4 separate regions of the Homo sapiens genome follow, and regions 1, 2 and 3 are each linked to region 4. The links come from fine-mapping of genetic effects on gene expression. A gene starts in region 4. Each other region holds a variant in brackets. All regions are shown on one strand. Distances are between the middles of the regions.

Region 1 (4,160 bases), 130 kb after region 4:
GTGGACACGCTGCTGGCCTTCCCAGCTGCCTGCAGGAGCTACCCTCTGACAGGTGGGGTGGGTTTGTGAGGGCTGAGGTAGCAAGCCCTGCAACCCTGGGCCAGCGTCTTTCCATCAAGGGACCCCTTGGAGCCCAGCCCAGGAGCCACAACCCTGGCCTCTTAAACTTGTCAGGGGCTTTTGCCGAGGGAGCTGTCTCAGTGTTTGGGGGCTGGGCACTGATCTCACAGTTTCTCGAGCCAAAGGCCCTAACCAGTTGCCTCTGATCCCATCACTTTTTTGCCCCTTGTGGAAGTTGTTCTGAAAACCTGGGACATTTGGGGCTTCATGCACCACGTGTCCTGTGGCTTGTAGCAGGAGCTTTGCTCTGGGGTGATTCACAGGTAGAAACAACCAGCAGTCCAGGTCATCTCAGTTTTCCTGGACGCAGCAGCTTCATGCACAGAGGCAGCAGGCAGGCCAGCCCTTGCAGCGCCTGCTGGAGAACAGAGCTGCTCAGTTCAGCCTGCTGGGACCAGCATGGGTGAGAAAGGAACCCAGCACCTCGCCACCTGCCCCATGCTCCCAGAAGGGAGACTGTGGGTGGAAAGCGGCTCCTGGGAGGAGTGAGGGTCACTAGCAGGTGTCATTGTCCCAGTATGTCACATCCTGATCTCTTCCCTTTTGATGCTGTTGCTTGCTCTGCAGGAGTCCCCAGAGCCAGGCAGGGGGATGAACCGCGAGGGAGCTCCCGGGAAGAGTCCGGAGGAGATGTACATTCAGCAGAAGGTCCGAGTGCTGCTCATGCTGCGGAAGATGGGATCAAACGTGAGTGCCTGTGGGGTGTCAGGCAGCGGGCCCCCAGGGAGGGTCTCCCAGGGAGGGGCCCTGCTGGGCTATTGGAGGGTGGAGCCACTGCGGCTGCCTCCTGCGGAGCCACGGGCTGAGGAGGGGCCGCTGGGCCTGTGGCTTGGCTCTAGGGCTGCTTCTGGCCCCCTAGGCACAGAGCCCAGCACGTCAAGTTCTGGGGACACCCGACACTGCCGGATTGGGGCCAGGCGGGTGAGGGTCTCAAGGCCCTGACCTTCCTTTTCTCCCCCTCACAAGCCCGAAAGTCTTCTCTCCCAGGGGGCAGCTCAGGGACAACTTGTCAGGACAGGAGCTGAGGGGGCAGCAGGCATGCATGTGCAGGGGTATTTCTCAAAAAGAGTGGAGGGACATGGAATCGCCCCTCAGCCTTCCGGGCAGGACTTGTGTCTTCCACTGGCCCTATACTAGAACAGACCTTAATCTCAGATTCAGTCTGAGTGGCAAAGGCTTTGGACCCCTGGACCAAGTTTAAGGAGGGTGGGAGTGGGGTGGGCTGGCCCTGAAAGCAAAGGGGTCAAATCTCAGAAACAGAAGCCCGAGCAGGGACCAAGCAGGGACCAAGCAGGCCTAGGCGGTGCCTCTAGGGGTGCAGGTGCCTTTCAGGGAACAGGTGCATGCTGCCCCTCACCACAGCTCTCTCACCCTGCAGCTGACAGCCAGCGAGGAGGAGTTCCTGCGCACCTATGCAGGGGTGGTCAACAGCCAGCTCAGCCAGCTGCCTCCGCACTCCATCGACCAGGGTGAGTTGGCGGCAGAGGGGCTGGGGCAGTGGCACAAGTCCCAGGGGCACCGACTTGTGGTTCCCTTAGAAAGCGTAGCTCCAGCCCTCTTTGATGGGTGATCCATGAGACCCAGGGCTGACTAGGAGGGGCTACAGCTCTCTCCACCCACAGAGCTGAGCCAGGAAACCTTCGGAGCCTCCCACCTGATCCCATCTCCTTCCTCAGGTGGGAGCCAAAGACTCTACAAGACAAATGGCAGGATCCCTTTCTAAGGCCTGGAAGAGGCAGGAAATGGAGATGTCTGGGGGCGCTCATAACTGCAGAGACTGATTATTGCATTTCTTTAACCTTTGGCCTGACCCCTACCCACCCAGCACCCTGTCCAGGAGAGAGAAACTGCCCTTGTGTGCTAGAACAATGCTGTCACTGTTGTCCTGAGCACAGACCACATTGTGGCTGGTGTGGTCCTGGCTGTGGCCAGGAGGAATGCCCCAAAGGCCTGATGTCTCCGTGCGCCTGAGGGAGTTCTGTCTTTTTGGGGTGACCTCAACAAGTCAGCATGGTAACAGGCAGGATGTGAGTGTTTGTTGTGTAGCAGGCACC[G/A]TTGTTTCATTCTATTGTAGGTAGCTACTATTTGTATTATTAATACTTCCACTTAACAGGCAAGGAAACTGGGATTTGGGAACAGTAAGCCACTTGGTCATGCAGCCAGGTGGTTACTGGGGAGTCCCGGGATGTACACCTGTGGCTGAGGAGCGCTTCACTGTCTGCCATCTTGCCCATAACCCACATGGCTACTGGACAGCTCCATGTCCCTTGGCTGCTCAGCAAGGTTCTCCTTCTCTAGAAGGCTTCTCATGACACAGAGGCCTAGTATTCTGACCAGCATCTCCATAGAGTCCTTTCCTTTTATTCTCTTTATGCTTTGTTGGAATGATTGGCCATGAAATATTACAACCTGTGGCATGTCCAGACGCGAGCGGGCCCCCGAAAGCAGAGTGCTGACGGCTGCGTTTGCTGTGCTTTGAGGCTGGCATGCGGGGCCTGACCTAGATCACCAGCCAGCCCTTGTTCTCCTGGATGTCTTAGGGCTCTGTCCTGGCACAGGGGCCTGTTCCCAAGCACCGATGCTGGGTGTGACCTGGCTTGTGCACCCAACTCAGCAGAAACCTTCCAGGCAGTGGCTCAGGCAGCTCCCTGGGACAGCAGCTCACCACGCACAACCTGCCTGGGTGTGTCTGCCCAGGTGTGCCTCCTGGATCATGCGGCAGCCTGTTCTATGTGGCGTCGGCTCCCGCCCCATCCTGGGATCTCTTGGGTGAGGTCTCTTCTCTTCCAGGGCTAATCTGGGTTTCTAGCATGGCACCCTCTACCATGGCTTCTGACTCATGTCAACCTGAAACCTTCAGGCTTCTGAGTCCCTGGAGACTCACCTTCCTTCCCACTTAGTCTTGGTCACTGAGTTAACCTGAATTTGAGCTCGGATGGTAAGAAAGCCTCCAGTTGAATACTCTTGGGAAAAAATCAAAATAGGAGACATCAAAATGTAGGACCATATGTCAGTATAAAAAGCAGCAACAGGCCGGGTACGGTGGCTCACAGCTGTAATCCCAGCATTTTGGGAGGCCAAGGCAGGTGGATCACCTGAGGTCAGGAGTTCTAGACCAGCCTGACCAACGTGGCGAAACCCCATCTCTACTAAAAATACAAAAGTTAGCTGGGCATGGTAGCATGCAGGTGTAATCCCAGCTACTTGGGAAGCCAAGATCTCACCGCTGCACTCCAGCCTGGGCAGCAGAGCAAGACTCCGTCTCAAAAAACAAAACAAAACAAAACAAAACCCCAGCAACAACACACATACACACAAGACACAAGCTGTATATGCACATAGAAAAAAAAGCTGGTGGCCAGGTGCAGTGGCTCACGCCTGTCATCCCAGCACTTTGAGAGGCCATGGCAAGAGGATTGCTTGAGCCCAGGAGCTCAAGACCAGCCTGGGCAACATAGGGAGACCCTCTCGCTACAAAAAATACAAAAACTAGCTGGCTGTGGTGGCACACGTCTGTAGTCCTAGCTACTAGGGAGGCTGAGGTGAGAGGATCGCTTGAGCCCAGGAGGTTGATGCTGCAGTGAGCCATGATCGCACCACTGCACCCCAGCCTGGGCAACAGAGGGAGACTCTGTCTCATAAATTTAAAAAATTTTTAAAAGACAAAGAAGCTGGTGGAATATATACCAGACTGTCAGAAATTTTGTTTTTGACAAGGGGTGCTGGGCGTGGTGGTTCATGCCTGTAATCCCAGCACTTTGGGAGGCCAAGGTGGGCAGATCACCTGAGGCCAGGAGTTCAAGACCAGCCTGGCCAACATGGCAACATCCTGTCTCTATTAAAAATACAAAAATTAGCTGAGCATGGTGGCAGGTGCCAGTAGTCCCAGCTACCCAGCTACTTGGGAGATTAAGGCAGGAGAACCGCTTGAATCTGGGAGGCGGAGCTTGCGATGAGCCAAGATCACACCACTTTACTCCAGCCTGGGCAACAGAGCTAGACTCTGTCTCAAAAAATAATAATAATAATAATTGTTAGGG
Region 2 (4,160 bases), 24 kb before region 4:
ATCTTTAAACACATACTAACTTGGCTGGGTGAGGTGGCTCACGCCTGTAATCCCAGCACTTTGGGAGGCTGAGGCAGACAGATCACGAGGTCAGGAGATCAAGACCATCCTGGCCGACATGGTGAAACCCCGTCCCTACTAAAAATGCAAAAATTAGCCGGGCATGATGGCATGTGCCCGTAGTCCCAGCTACTCAGGAGGCCAAGGCAAGAGAATCGCTTGAACCCGGGAGGCAGAGGTTGCAGTGAGCCGAGATCATGCCACTATACTCCAGCCTGGGCAACAGAGCGAGACTCTGTCTCAAAAAAAAAGGAGTTGAGATCAGCCTGGGCAACATGGTAAAACCCCATCTCTACTAAAAATACAACAATTAGCCAGGTGTGGTGGCGGGCGCCTGTAATCCCAACTACTTGGGAGGCTGGGGCACAAGAATCCCTTGAACCCTGGAGGCGGAGGTTGCAGTGAGCCAAGATTGCACCACTGCACTTCAGCCTGGGTGACGGAGCGAAACTCCATTACAAAAAAAAAAAAGACTGTTTTGCAAACTCTCCTAAAGATTGCACCCAGAAGTTATAATGAAATCCTTATGAGCAGGTCGAGGAAATATCAAAAGCAAAACTCTTATCTGTGGAGAACCGAAGACTCTTAAGGGCAAGAAACTGAGGGAAAATAATCTGCTACAAAAGGTCTCAGGAAATAAAGATTCTTGCTGTGGACAGAAACAAAGAGAATATTAAAAAGTATTCATTATAGGCCAGGCACAGTGGCTCACGCCTGTAATTCCAGCACTTTGGGAGGCTGAGGCAGGTGGATCATGAGGTCAGGAGTTCGAGACCAGCCTGGCCAACATAGTGAAACCCCCATCTCTACTAAATACACAAAAATTAGCCGGGCGTGGTGGCCCATGCCTGTAATTCCAGCTACTCAGGAGGCTGAGACAGGAGAATCGCTTGAGCCTGGGAGGCGGAGGTTGCAGTGAGCCAAGATCACGCCATTGCACTCCAGCCTGGGTGACAAGAGCAAGACTCCATCTCAAAAAATAAAGTATTCATTATAAATATATTGACTGAATTTCACTGTCTGAGACTCCATATGAAAAGGCTAGGCCGGGTGCAGCGGCTCATACCTATAATCTCAGGACTTTGGGAGGCCGAGGCAGATGGATTGTATTAGAAACGGCAACCAAGAGACATATTAATTCATTTTTAAGATAAGCCTATTACATGCAGAGTGGCCTTGTTTGACATTTTTGCAAATCTCTTTAATGTCTGGCTTAATAGAAGACAGCTGAATTCTCAGATGTACTTCTGGGTCAGGTCAGTTGTGATGTGGCCTGGCAGGAAGTCTCTGGAAAACTCCCATATGCTCATGAGAGAGAGAGAATGAAGAGCAAATATCATCTCAGGATTATTATGAAAATAGCTTTGATCTCACAGATACCCTTAAAAGGTCTCGGGATCCCCGGGTCCTCAGATCACGGTTTGAGAACACTGTCCATTGGGGGCATAATCCATTTGCCATCAGTTTGTCACATACCTCCAGCAGGCCAAGGTGGGCAGATCACCTGAGGTCAGGAGTTCGAGACCAGCCTTGCCAACATGGTGAAACCCCCTGTCTACTCAAAATGCAAAAATTAGCTGCGCGTGGTGGCAAGTGCCTGTAATCCCAGCTACTTGGGA[A/G]GCTGAGGCAGGAGAATCCCTTGAACCCAGGAGACAGAGGTTGCAGTGAGCTGAGATTGTGCCACTCCACTCCACCCTGGGTGACAGAAAGAGACTCTGTCTCAAACAGAAATAGAAAAAAAAGAAAAAGAAAAAGAAAAGCCTATAAAATAATAGTTGTCAGCACATGGTCTCTAGGGAACTTTTTGGAGTGATTGACTTGTTCTGAAACTGGATTGTAGGAATGGTTGTACACCTATGTACATTTACTAGAAATTATCAAATTGTACACTTAGGTGCATTTTATGGTACATAAAATATACCTCAATAAAGCCATTAAAGAAAAACAACTCAAGTCCAACAGAGTCCAAAAGTAAAAAAAGAAAAAGAAAAACTCCAAGAGTCATATTCCAAAAAATTAAATTTTTATTACAAGGGGCCACACTTGTAATCCGAGCATTTTGGTAGGCTGAGGTGGGTGGATCACTTGAGGCCAGGAGTTGGAGACCAGCCCAACCAACATGGCGAAACAAAAATACAAAAATACTAAAAATACAAAAATTAGCTGGCCATGGTGGTGGTGCACACTTGTAATCCCAGCTACTAGGGAGGCTGAGGCAGGAGAATCACTTAAACCCGGGAGGTGGAGGTTGCAGTGAGCGGAGATTGCACCACTGCACTCCAGCCTGGATGACAGAGTGAGACTCTGTCTCAAAAAATATATATATATTAAAGCAGAATTGAAATGCTATTTCTCCTCCTCTTCCTCTCCTCCCTTCCTCTCCCTTTTTCCCCCCCTTTAAGGGCATCCAAAGTATGTGGATCATGGAAGTGCCTGCTTTGAAGATCTTTCTTTGCTAAGGATGAAGCTTCCAAGCTGGTTGTGCTGAAGGGCCAACATCTGGTAGTAATTTCATGAAAGGATTTTTTTTTTTTTGAGATGGAGTTTCACTCTTGTTGCCCAGGCTGGAGTGCAATGGCATGGCGCTATCTCTGCTCACTGCAACCTCTGCCTCCCGGGTTCAAGCAATCCTCCCCCCTCAGCCTCCTGAGTAGCTGGGATTACAGGAATCTGCCACTTTGCCCGGCTTTTGGTATGACCTAGAAACTTGTTTTTTGTTACAATACTTCTCAGTGTCAGAATAATATATATTGAATTCATCACTCATTTTTATGGTTGTTTCATATTCTCAGGACCTAGTAATAATAATAATAGTGAACTTCCAGGAATATATACTGAACCGAATTCAATCTAAGCAATTATGATTAAATACTTGTAAAAGTTAACTATAGTAAACCTCAGAGAAGATAGCCTCTTGCTTTTTTTTTTTTTTCATAGAGATAGGGTTTTGCTCTGTTGCCCAGGATGAAGTGGAATGGTGCGATCATGGCTCACTGTTGCAACCTTGAGCTCCTCAGACTACAGGGATGTGTCACCATGCGTGGCCAGCCCCCTGAGACAGGGTCTTGCTCTGTTGTCCAGTCTGGAGTGCACTGGCACAATCTTGGCTCACTGCAGCCTCAACTTCCTGGCTTAAGCTATCCCCTCACCTCAGCCTCTGGAGTAGCTGGGACTACAGGCATGGACCACCACACCCAACTAATTTTCTATTTTTTGTAGAGACGGGGTCTCAGTATGTTGTTCAGGCTGGTCTCCAACTCCTGGGCTCAAGGGATCCTCCTGCCTCAGCCTCCCAAAATGCTAGGATTACAGGTGTGAGCCACCATGCCCAGCTACCTCTTGTATTTTGAAATGACAAAAAGACCTTTTACATATTATATTTTCTCACTTGTTTTGTTCTACCATTCCTAAATGTCTTTCCAAACTGTAGTTTGTATCATGTAGTAAAGTTTAATGAAATATATATTTGGTCTTTTTCCCTGGTTCTGGCACAGGGCTCCTAAATTCCTTGGAATTTCCTGAGTGATAGGATTGTCTTTTGCTATTCATAAGGAGCCCCTTTAGAACACACCAGAGTCTATGCTAATGATGTGACTCAGGGTTGGGGCTGCTCACCAGAAAGACCAAATTAGAGGACTTTGATTAGAGGGTGGAAACAGCCCCACCCCAACCTCCTGGGAGGGAAGGGGGCTGGAGATGGAGCTCTATGAAAACTCCTGAACAAGGAGGTTCAGTGAGCTTCAGTACCAGTGGAGGGTGTCCAGGTTTTTGGCATTTTGAACAAAGAATTTAACAAGGGCCAGGTGCGGTGGCTCACGCCTGTAATCCCAGCACTTTGGGAGGCCGAGGCGGGCAGATCACGAGGTCAGGAGATTGAGACCATCCTGGCTAACATAGTGAAACACTGTCTCTACTAAAAATACAAAAAATTAGCCGGGCGTGGTGGCGGGTGCCTGTAGTCCCAGCTACTCGGGAGGCTGAGGCAGGAGAATGGCATGAACCTGGGAGGCAGAGGTTGCAGTGAGCCGAGATCACGCCACTGTACTCCAGCCTGGGTGACAGAGCAAGACTCCATCAAAAAAAAAAAAAAAAAAAAAGAG
Region 3 (4,160 bases), 400 kb before region 4:
AGTGGCACAATCTCAGGTCACTGTAACCTCCACCTCCCAGGTTCAAGTGATTCTCATTCCTCAGCCTCCCGAGTAACTGGGATTACAGGCATGAGCCACAAAGCCCAGCTAATTTTTATATTTTTAGTAGAGACGGGGTTTCACCATGTTGGCCAGGCTGGTCTCGAACCTGGGACCATAAGCTTGTAGCTGGGACCATAAGCTTACACCACCATACCCAGCTAATTTTTTAATTTTATGTAGAGACAGGGTTTCGCCATGTTGCCCAGGCTGGTCTCGAACTCCTGGGCTCAAACGATCCATCTGAACCAGCCTCCCAAAAAGTGCTGGGATTACAGGCCTGAGCCACTGTGCCCCGCCTTAATGTTTATTGAAATGTCTGTTAGTATTCTCAGAATTACTACCACCAAAGGACAAAGTTACTTCATAAGCGCTTATCAAGTTAACCAACACTGCAACAGTTAAGCAATCATTTGGTCAGAGCTTAGCAGAAATTGAAAAAAAAAAATCTCTAGAGTTAAAAGAAGGAGAACTAAAGGAAGAAACCAAAAACAGCTGCTATCGTGGTAGCAGCTGAGAGCACAGCTGGCCTCACCAATTTCTCGATGAAATCATCCACAGCTTGCCCAGCCTTCACCAGGAGGATGATCCGCCGGGGCTTCTTCAGCTTGGAGACCATCTCTTTCAGGGACTGGGCACCCACCACTTTGGTTCCCTTTGCCTCATTGGCCAAGAAATCATCAACTTTGGAGACAGTCCTATTAAAAGCACAGACCTAGAAGGACAAAAGTCCTGAGTAGGAGATCCAGGACACACAAGACTTTCAGACTGTGGCCAAAGTAACAATGACCTTTCCATTCAACCCAAGTTCTGGGGAGGTCAGACCTGCCTTTGCCTTTTCTTCCCCCAGCTGTGGGAGGCTCACTGTAAAGTTATGTCACCTCAGTAGGATGAAAACGGCGGACAACCGAGGCGAAGGCCAACTACCCCCGGTGTGTCAGGTAGAATCCACACCCAACGTGTTAGGACTCAAAATCAAATCCAGGAACTGGCCGGTTCAACAGGCTCTATCTGTTGTTATTGATCATCCTGGCGTCTAAGCCACTTTAACATTTAGAAGAAACATTTTCACTCTCCCCAGATCTCATCAGGCAATCAAGTTAGAGCTCTACACAGCCAGCAAGGGTTCTCCTCCCGCACCCTTCTTCTCTACTTAAGACACTAATTCGTTCATTCGGGCTGTGAACCTCACGGACCCACAGGCACACTCCGCAGGACTAAGTTCGGGATCGGCCCGCCCACGCCTACAGGGTGCTTCTCCTTTCCATACAAAAATGCCACGAGCAGCAACAGAGCACATTAGCAAAGCACGGCCAGGAGACCCGTAAGCTCCCAAACCTATCGCCGGCCTCGGCTAAAGCGCCCGGGAACCAGAGAGAAGACAACGCGCCCACGCCGCTTACCACAAAGCCGTGGTCATTCATGTTCAGAATTAAGTTCTGGCCCATGACGGCCAATCCGATCAGCGCGATGTCAGCTCTAGAGAGGCAGAAACAGAACAAAGGAAAGAGTCAGCACCGCTCGACGCGCTGCAACCCAGGGGTCCGGTCCTTCCACATTTGGCCGTGACTGGGAGTCTGCACTTTCCTCCGCGCCTCCCGCGGGCCCCCAGAAGCCGGGCGCGCACGCTGCAGAGCCTCGGCCGGGCAGGCGGCCCCCAGCCCCGCCCTCGCGCCCGGCTCCCGCTGGCACGCGTCCCGCAGGTGTCCCTGCAGACTCGGCGAGGCCTGGCCGCGCCTCCTCCCTGGCCCTCGAAGGGACCCGCCCCGCCCCATGCCTGCGCGGCCGAGAGGGCAGGGGGCCGGGCCCGCAGGGAAGGAGCTCTGGGCCCGAGACGCCGTAGGGCCAGGGTCACAGAGCCCCAAGTGAGCTCAGGCGACCCCCAGGGTGGGA[G/A]GCGTCGGAGAGAACGAGGGAGATCTCGACCCCCAAAGAGTTCCCCGCCCGCTGAGGCCGAGCCGGGCTGCCCCTGGCGAGTCACTCACTGGGCCATGGCGGCGGACAGAGCAGAACCGAAGAGCGGCGACGCGCGGAGGACGAGTGAGGGAAAGACCCGCAGCGGCTCCCTCCAGAAACTGCGGCCGCTCACGCCCGGCTTTTCGGCGCCGGCCAATCGAATGGAAGGGGGTGGAGCCATGAAGCCACACCATTGGCTCTCCCCGACGCCTGTTAGACCATCCGAGGCAAACGTGCCCGCCCACCCCCGGGGGCCGGATCAGTGGAGCGCCGAGCACCTAGATGACATTGCCCCGGCGAGGCTCCGGGCTCCCCGCCCACGCGCAGAGCTTTCCGCTCGTCCCAGCTGCACCTCGGTCCTGCAGGCCGTCCGCCTGGCGCAGCTGTAGCCATAGCAACTCACGCAGGACCGCGCTTTACAGTTTACCAGGCACTCGGACGCCTTTGGCGCGAGCGCCCGTCGCTCCTTCCTCAGGTCACTGCGGTGCACCGTGCGGGTCCGCGTCGTGTCCTCCGCTCCGGAGCAGGGACCGGGCGTGCTCGTTCAGTCCTGTGCGCACTCGGAATGGGGCCGGGGAAGGCTGAGCCTCAGGGCGACCCTGATGTGGAGCCGTGCGACCGCTCACTGCGGTTGAAGAGACCCAGGCGCAGACAGCGCAGGCGGGGTATGTATTGGTTGGAGTATGATGGGGTCAGGACTTGAGTCTTTTACCCAGGCCCGGAGTTAACGGTATTGAACCCCTTCTCATTTTGTAGAGGCTATGTGACCCGCGAGATGGACCAGGTTAAATGCAGAGGCAGATACAAAAAACCAGCCATCTTAAGCCAGACATTTGCAAAGTAGCCAAGCAGCGCTTCTTATCTTACTGAGTCCCTTCTTGCTAGGAGGAAATTGTTATTCAGAAGTTTGAGTTTTAGATTTTTTTTGTTTTTTTTGAGACGGAGTCTCGCACTGTCGCCCGGGCTGGAATGCAGTGGTGTGATCTCAGCTCACTGCACCTTCCGCCTCCCGGGTTCAAGCAATTTTCCTGCCTCAGCCTCCCAAGTAGCTGGGATTACAGGCGCCCGCCACCACGCCCAGCTAATTTTTGTATTTTTAGTAGAGATGGGGTTTCACCATCTTGGCCAGGCTGGTCTCAAACTCCTGACCTCGTGATCCGCCCGCCTTGGCCTCCCAAAGTGCTGAGATTACCGGCGTGAGCCACCGTGCCCGGCCTTTTTTTGATGTCATTGTTGAGATGGAGTCTGGCTGTGTCTCCAGGCTGGAGGGCAGTGGCGCGATCTGGGCTCACTGCAACCTCCACCTCCCAGGTTCAAGCGATTCTCCTGCCTCAGCCTCCCAAGTAGCTGGGACTACAGGTGTGTGCCACCATGCCCAGCTAATGTTTTTATTTTTAGTAGAGACAGGGTTTCACCATGTTGGCCAGGCTGGTCTCGAACTCCTAACCTCAAGTGATCCACCCACCTCAGCCTCCCAAAGTTCTGGGATTAGAGGTGTGAGCCACTGTGCCCGGCCGGTTTTTAATTTTTATAAAGACCAGGTCTTTGCTCTGTTGCCCAGGCTGGAGTGCAGTGGCATGACCATAGCTTACTGCAGCCTTGAACTCCTGAGGTCGAGCAATCTTCTAGCCTCAACTTCCTGAGTAGCTAGGACTACAGGCATGCAACACCATGCCCGGCTAAGACATCCTACTTTAAAATATGTCAAACTTCACAGCACAGTTCTTTTTTTAAAATACAGATTTAATGAGATAATTTACATGTCATACAATTCAAACATTGTAAGTACACATTTGGATGACCTTTAATTTATACTGTTGTGTAGCCATCACCATAATCCACTTATAGAAAACTTCCATCACCCCAAAACGTTCCCTTGGGCCTATTTGTAGTCAGTCTCTGCTCTCACCCCCAGCCAACCTCTGATCTACTTTGCATGGTTTTTGCCTTTTCCAGAAATTTCATAGAAATGGAATAATAGCATATAATTTTTTTGGTCTGGCTTCTTTCACTTAGCATCACGTTTCTGAGGCTCATCTGTGTTGTAGGTATGAGTGGTTTGTTCCTTTTCATTGCTGAGTGGTATTCCATTAATGCAATTGTGTCATCATTTGCTTATCCATTTATCTGTTGATAGACATTTGGAT
Region 4 (4,160 bases):
CCGCAGTTCCACGTGGCTGGGGAAGCCTCAAAATCATGGCAGAAGGCAAAAGGCACGTCTTACATGGTGGCAGGCAAGAGAGAATGAGAGCCAAATGAAAGGGGAAACCCCTTGTAAAACCATCAAATCTCATGAGACATTCACTACCACCAGAACAGTGTGGGGAAAACTACCCCATGATTCAATTACCTCTCCTCAGGTCCCTCCCACAACACATGAGAATTATGGGAACTACAACTCCCATGAGATTTGGGTGGGGACACAGCCAAACCATATCACTTGGCATTTGAGGAAATAACAGTAGCAGGAAGGTCCCCCTCAGACCTTCTTTTGCCCCTCTTCCCTGAAGCAGGCCATAAAAGAATTCTCTGCTCTTCCTCTGAAGAAGATCATAAGACTCTCAAGTGAGAGGTGCTTTTCCCATACCCAGAGGAACACTCTTATCTCTTGGGATATGAAAGAGCAAAATAAATGCCCCTTTATCAACTAAGATGGGCCCTAAGGTTAAGAAAACAAAAATTGGCCGGTGCGGTGCCTCACGCCTGTAATCCCAGCACTTTGGGAGGCCAAGGTGGGCAGATCACGAGGGCAGATGTTCGAGACCAGCCTGGCCAACATGGTGAAACCCCGTTTCTACTAAAAAATACAAAAATTAGCTGGGCGTGGTGGCGGGCGCCTATAGTCCCAGCTACTCGGAGAGGCTGAGGCAGGAAAATGGCGTGAACCCGGTAGGCGGAGCTTGCAGTGAGCCGAGATCGTACTACTGCACTCCAGCCTGGGCAACAGAGCGAGACTCCGTCTCAAAAAAAAAAAAAAAAAAGAAAGAAAGAAAGAAAGAAAAAAAGAAAACAAAAATTGCCCACGGGTCAAGGGTTCAGGGATTGGCCGGCACGGCAACTTCCCAGATTCCTAAAGCTACAAGAAAAACTACACTCGTGGCAGGGCGCGTGGCTCACACCTGTAATCCCAGCACTTTGGGAGGCCAAGGCGGGTGGATCACCTGAGGTCAGGAGTTGGACACCAGCCTGACCAATATAGTGAAACCCCTTCTCTACTAAAAGTACAAAATTAGCCGGACGTGGTGGCTGGCGCACGCGTGTAATCCCAGCTACTTGGAAGGCTGTGGCAGGAGAATCGCTTGAACCGAGGAGGCGGAGGTTGCAGTGAGTTGAGAGTCCGCGCACCGTTGGCACCGCGATGAGGGCGGGAAGCACAGCGCGGGGCCCCCGGGAGCAAGAACGCCGCGGGCACCCAGCCCTCGTGGGAGGCGGCGGTCGGGGCACGCCCCGGGCCGAACCAGGCTCTGCACTCCCGCGGGTGCCCGGACCTGAAGGGTCGTCCGCTGGCTCCAGGATTCTGCATCCCCGACCCGCTCCGGGTGCGCCGAGGCTGCTGGGACTTCGCTGCGGGAGCGCGCCCGGGGCCCCGGGGCCTGCACGGAAGGCGGCTGCGGGGAGGGTGGCCGGGCAGAGGCTTCGGTCCCGGGCGCCCCCTCCCCGGCCGGACCCCCCTCCCCGGCCGGACCCCGAGTCTGCAGTCTCCGCAGGTGTGCCGCGTGCGGGTAGAGACGGACGTGGGGCTGGACGCGGGCACTCAGGGACGGACGGGTGGGGGACCGACGGCCGGGGGAACAGAGGGCGTGGAGAGACGGCCGTGGGGACAGGGGGGCGGGTGGGCGCGGGAAAGGACGGACTGGGGGACTGAAGGACTGGGGTCCCGCGCCCGATGGACGGAGGCGCCAAGGACCAGCGGACTCGGGGGCGACTGGGCGACGGTGGGCGCAGCAGGGCGGAGGCACGGACAGAGGACGTACCTACAGGCCCGGCCCGGCCGCCTTCGCCTGATCCCGAGACCCACGGCGAGCCTCGCGCCGCCGCCGCCTCCCCTCCGCCTTACCTAGGGCCAGCATGTAGCCCTCGAAGTTGTCGCTGCTGAGCAGGGTCCAAGTACCGCTGAGGTCGGCGGGCATGGTCGGGGATCGCGGGACAAACCCGGCGGGCGGCCGGAGGCTCGGGCCGGGACCTATAAACCAGGCGGGGCGGGGCAGGGGGGTGGGGCCGCGCGCGGGAGGAGCAGGTGGGGCCGCGTGGGTCCCACTCACCCCTAGAAGCCGCTGCGCTCCCGGCCGCCTCAGCCCGGTGCTCCTGGCTCTGCCCACCGCGCGGCAGCTTCCCCCTTTCCTTGGGGCTTCCTCTCCTACTGCTTTCTCATGTCCCAGACTGTTTCGGGCCACATTTTCTTCCCTGCTTATATGTTAATGACCCAGGGATGATCTTCAAACTCATGGCATTGAATATTGTCAGCTTCAATAACAATATACCTCTCAACGTAACTCTCATGGTCTCAATAAATAGGAGTTTATTTTTCTTAACAAGGAGTCCTGAGAGAAGTGATTGCTGGTGATGATTCGCACCTAGGAATCACAGTGATTCGCACCTCGGTAACGCCGCAGCTTCGTCTCTGTGACTCTGGTGGCCTTTTATTCCTGCTTGTTACCTCCTGGTCATGAGCTGGCAGCTGGGTTCCCAGCCAGGACATCCACATTCAAGGTAGGGAAGAGGGAAAGCACCAAAGGTCAGTATCCCTGCAGCACAAACCTCCCCATCTCCTATAAGTCTGGATAGTTGGAAAAAAGAAAAGAAATTACCCAGCAGGTTTCTGTGTACATTTCATTAGCCAAAACTGTATCAATGCCACTTCTAACTGCAAGGGGGCCTGGGGATTCTAGTCTGCAGCATTTAGCCTCAGAGCAGAGAAAAGCAAAGGAGAAGGGGTGGGAATATGGGCTAACCTACAACATTAGCCACAAACACCGCCTAGATATGCTGGCTCCAAGACTGACTTATTGATTTTATTTTTATTTTTTTTCTTTTGAGACAGAGTCTCACTCTTTCTTTTTTCTTTTTTTTTTTTTTTTTGAGACGGAGTCTCGCTCTGTGCCCAGGCTGGAGTGCAGTGGAGAGATCTCGGCTCACTGCAAGCTCCGCCTCCGGGGTTCACGCCATTCTCCTGCCTCAGCCTCCCGAGTAGCTGGGACTACAGGCGCCCGCCAACACGCCCGGCTAACTTTTTATATTTTTATTAGAGACGGGGTTTCACCGTGTTAGCCAGGATGGTCTCGATCTCATGACCTTGTGATCCGCCCGCCTTGGCCTCCCAAAGTGCTGGGATTACAGGCCTGAGCCACTGCGCCCGGCAGAGAGGGAGTCTCACTCTATCGCCCCGGGCTGGAGGGCAGTGGTTCCATCTCGGCTCACTGCAACCTCCGCCTCCCAGGTTCAAGTGATTCTCCTGCCTCAGCCTCCCGAGTAGCTGGGATCACAGGTGCCCATCACCATGCCCAACTAATTTTTTGTATTTTTAGTGGAGATGGGGGTTTCATCATGTTGGCTAGGCTGGTCTTGAGCTCCTGACCTCGTGATTCGCCTGCCTCAGCCTCCCAAAGTGCTGGGATTATAGGTGTGAGCCACCGCACCCGCGGTATTTATTTTTTCATTTATTCTTTTTATTTTATTTTATTCTATTTTATTTTTTGAGACAGACTCTCACTCTGTCGCCTAGGCTGGAGTGCAATGGTGCAATCTTGGCTCACTGCAACCTCCGCCTCTTGGGTTCAAGCAACTCTCCTGCCTCAGCCTCCTGAGTAGCTGGGATTACAGGTACCTGCCACCATGCCTGGCTAATTTTTATATATTTTAGAAGAGGTGGAGTTTCACCATGTTGGCCAGGTAGGTCTCGAACTCCCAACCTTAAAAGATCCACCCACCTAAGCTTCCCAAAGTGCTGGAATTACAGGCATGAGCCACCACACCCAGACTGACTATTTTTTGAGATAGAGTCTTGCTCTGTTGCCTAGGCTGGAGTGCAGTGGTATGATCATGGTTCACTGTAGCCTCAACCTCCTGAGTTCAAGTGATCTTCCTGCCTCAGCCTTCTAAGTAGCTACAACTACAGGCATGTGCCACCATGCCTGACTAATTTTTTTAATTTTTTATAGAGATGGAGTATCCCTGTGTTGCCGGCGGTTGGTCTCAAACTCCTAGGCTCAAGCAACCCTCCAACCTTGGCCTCCCAAAGTGCTGGGATTACAGGTGTAAGCCACTGTGTCCAGCTCAAGATTTATATGTCAATTTATGACCTCTCCCATGAGTTCCAGACTC

The links.
Region 1: its variant is fine-mapped to the expression of RBP7 in whole blood (TOPMed, PIP above 0.99).
Region 2: its variant is fine-mapped to the expression of RBP7 in whole blood (TOPMed, PIP 0.95).
Region 3: its variant is fine-mapped to the expression of RBP7 in whole blood (TOPMed, PIP above 0.99).

Annotation. Positions count from the first base shown.
Region 1 is chr1:9,868,616-9,872,775 of GRCh38, reverse strand. CTNNBIP1 (catenin beta interacting protein 1) reads left to right here. Exons shown (of 6, transcript NM_020248.3): 4 at 688-807; 5 at 1,499-1,589. The coding sequence starts at 712. Among named protein-coding and RNA genes, the nearest start is that of CTNNBIP1-AS1, 22 kb to the right of the region's middle. RefSeq lists enhancers at 1-493, 494-1,422. The variant G/A (reference allele first, on the strand shown) is at 2,175.
Region 2 is chr1:10,019,244-10,023,403 of GRCh38, reverse strand. No RefSeq gene overlaps it. Among named protein-coding and RNA genes, the nearest start is that of UBE4B, 12 kb to the left of the region's middle. The variant A/G (reference allele first, on the strand shown) is at 1,680.
Region 3 is chr1:10,397,008-10,401,167 of GRCh38, reverse strand. PGD (phosphogluconate dehydrogenase) reads right to left here and starts at 2,104. Exons shown (of 13, transcript NM_002631.4): 1 at 2,043-2,104; 2 at 1,464-1,539; 3 at 596-775. The coding sequence starts at 2,050. RefSeq lists silencers at 1,338-1,514, 1,607-1,926 and an enhancer at 2,407-2,716. The variant G/A (reference allele first, on the strand shown) is at 1,954.
Region 4 is chr1:9,995,068-9,999,227 of GRCh38, reverse strand. It overlaps RBP7 (retinol binding protein 7), which reads right to left and starts at 2,000. Exons shown (of 4, transcript NM_052960.3): 1 at 1,897-2,000. The coding sequence starts at 1,969. It overlaps LOC124903840 (basic salivary proline-rich protein 2-like), which reads left to right and starts at 1,139. Exons shown (of 2, transcript XM_047436754.1): 1 at 1,139-1,546; 2 at 2,376-2,509. The coding sequence starts at 1,198. The coding sequence ends at 2,509. It also overlaps a transcript of NMNAT1 not described here. RefSeq lists a silencer at 51-251.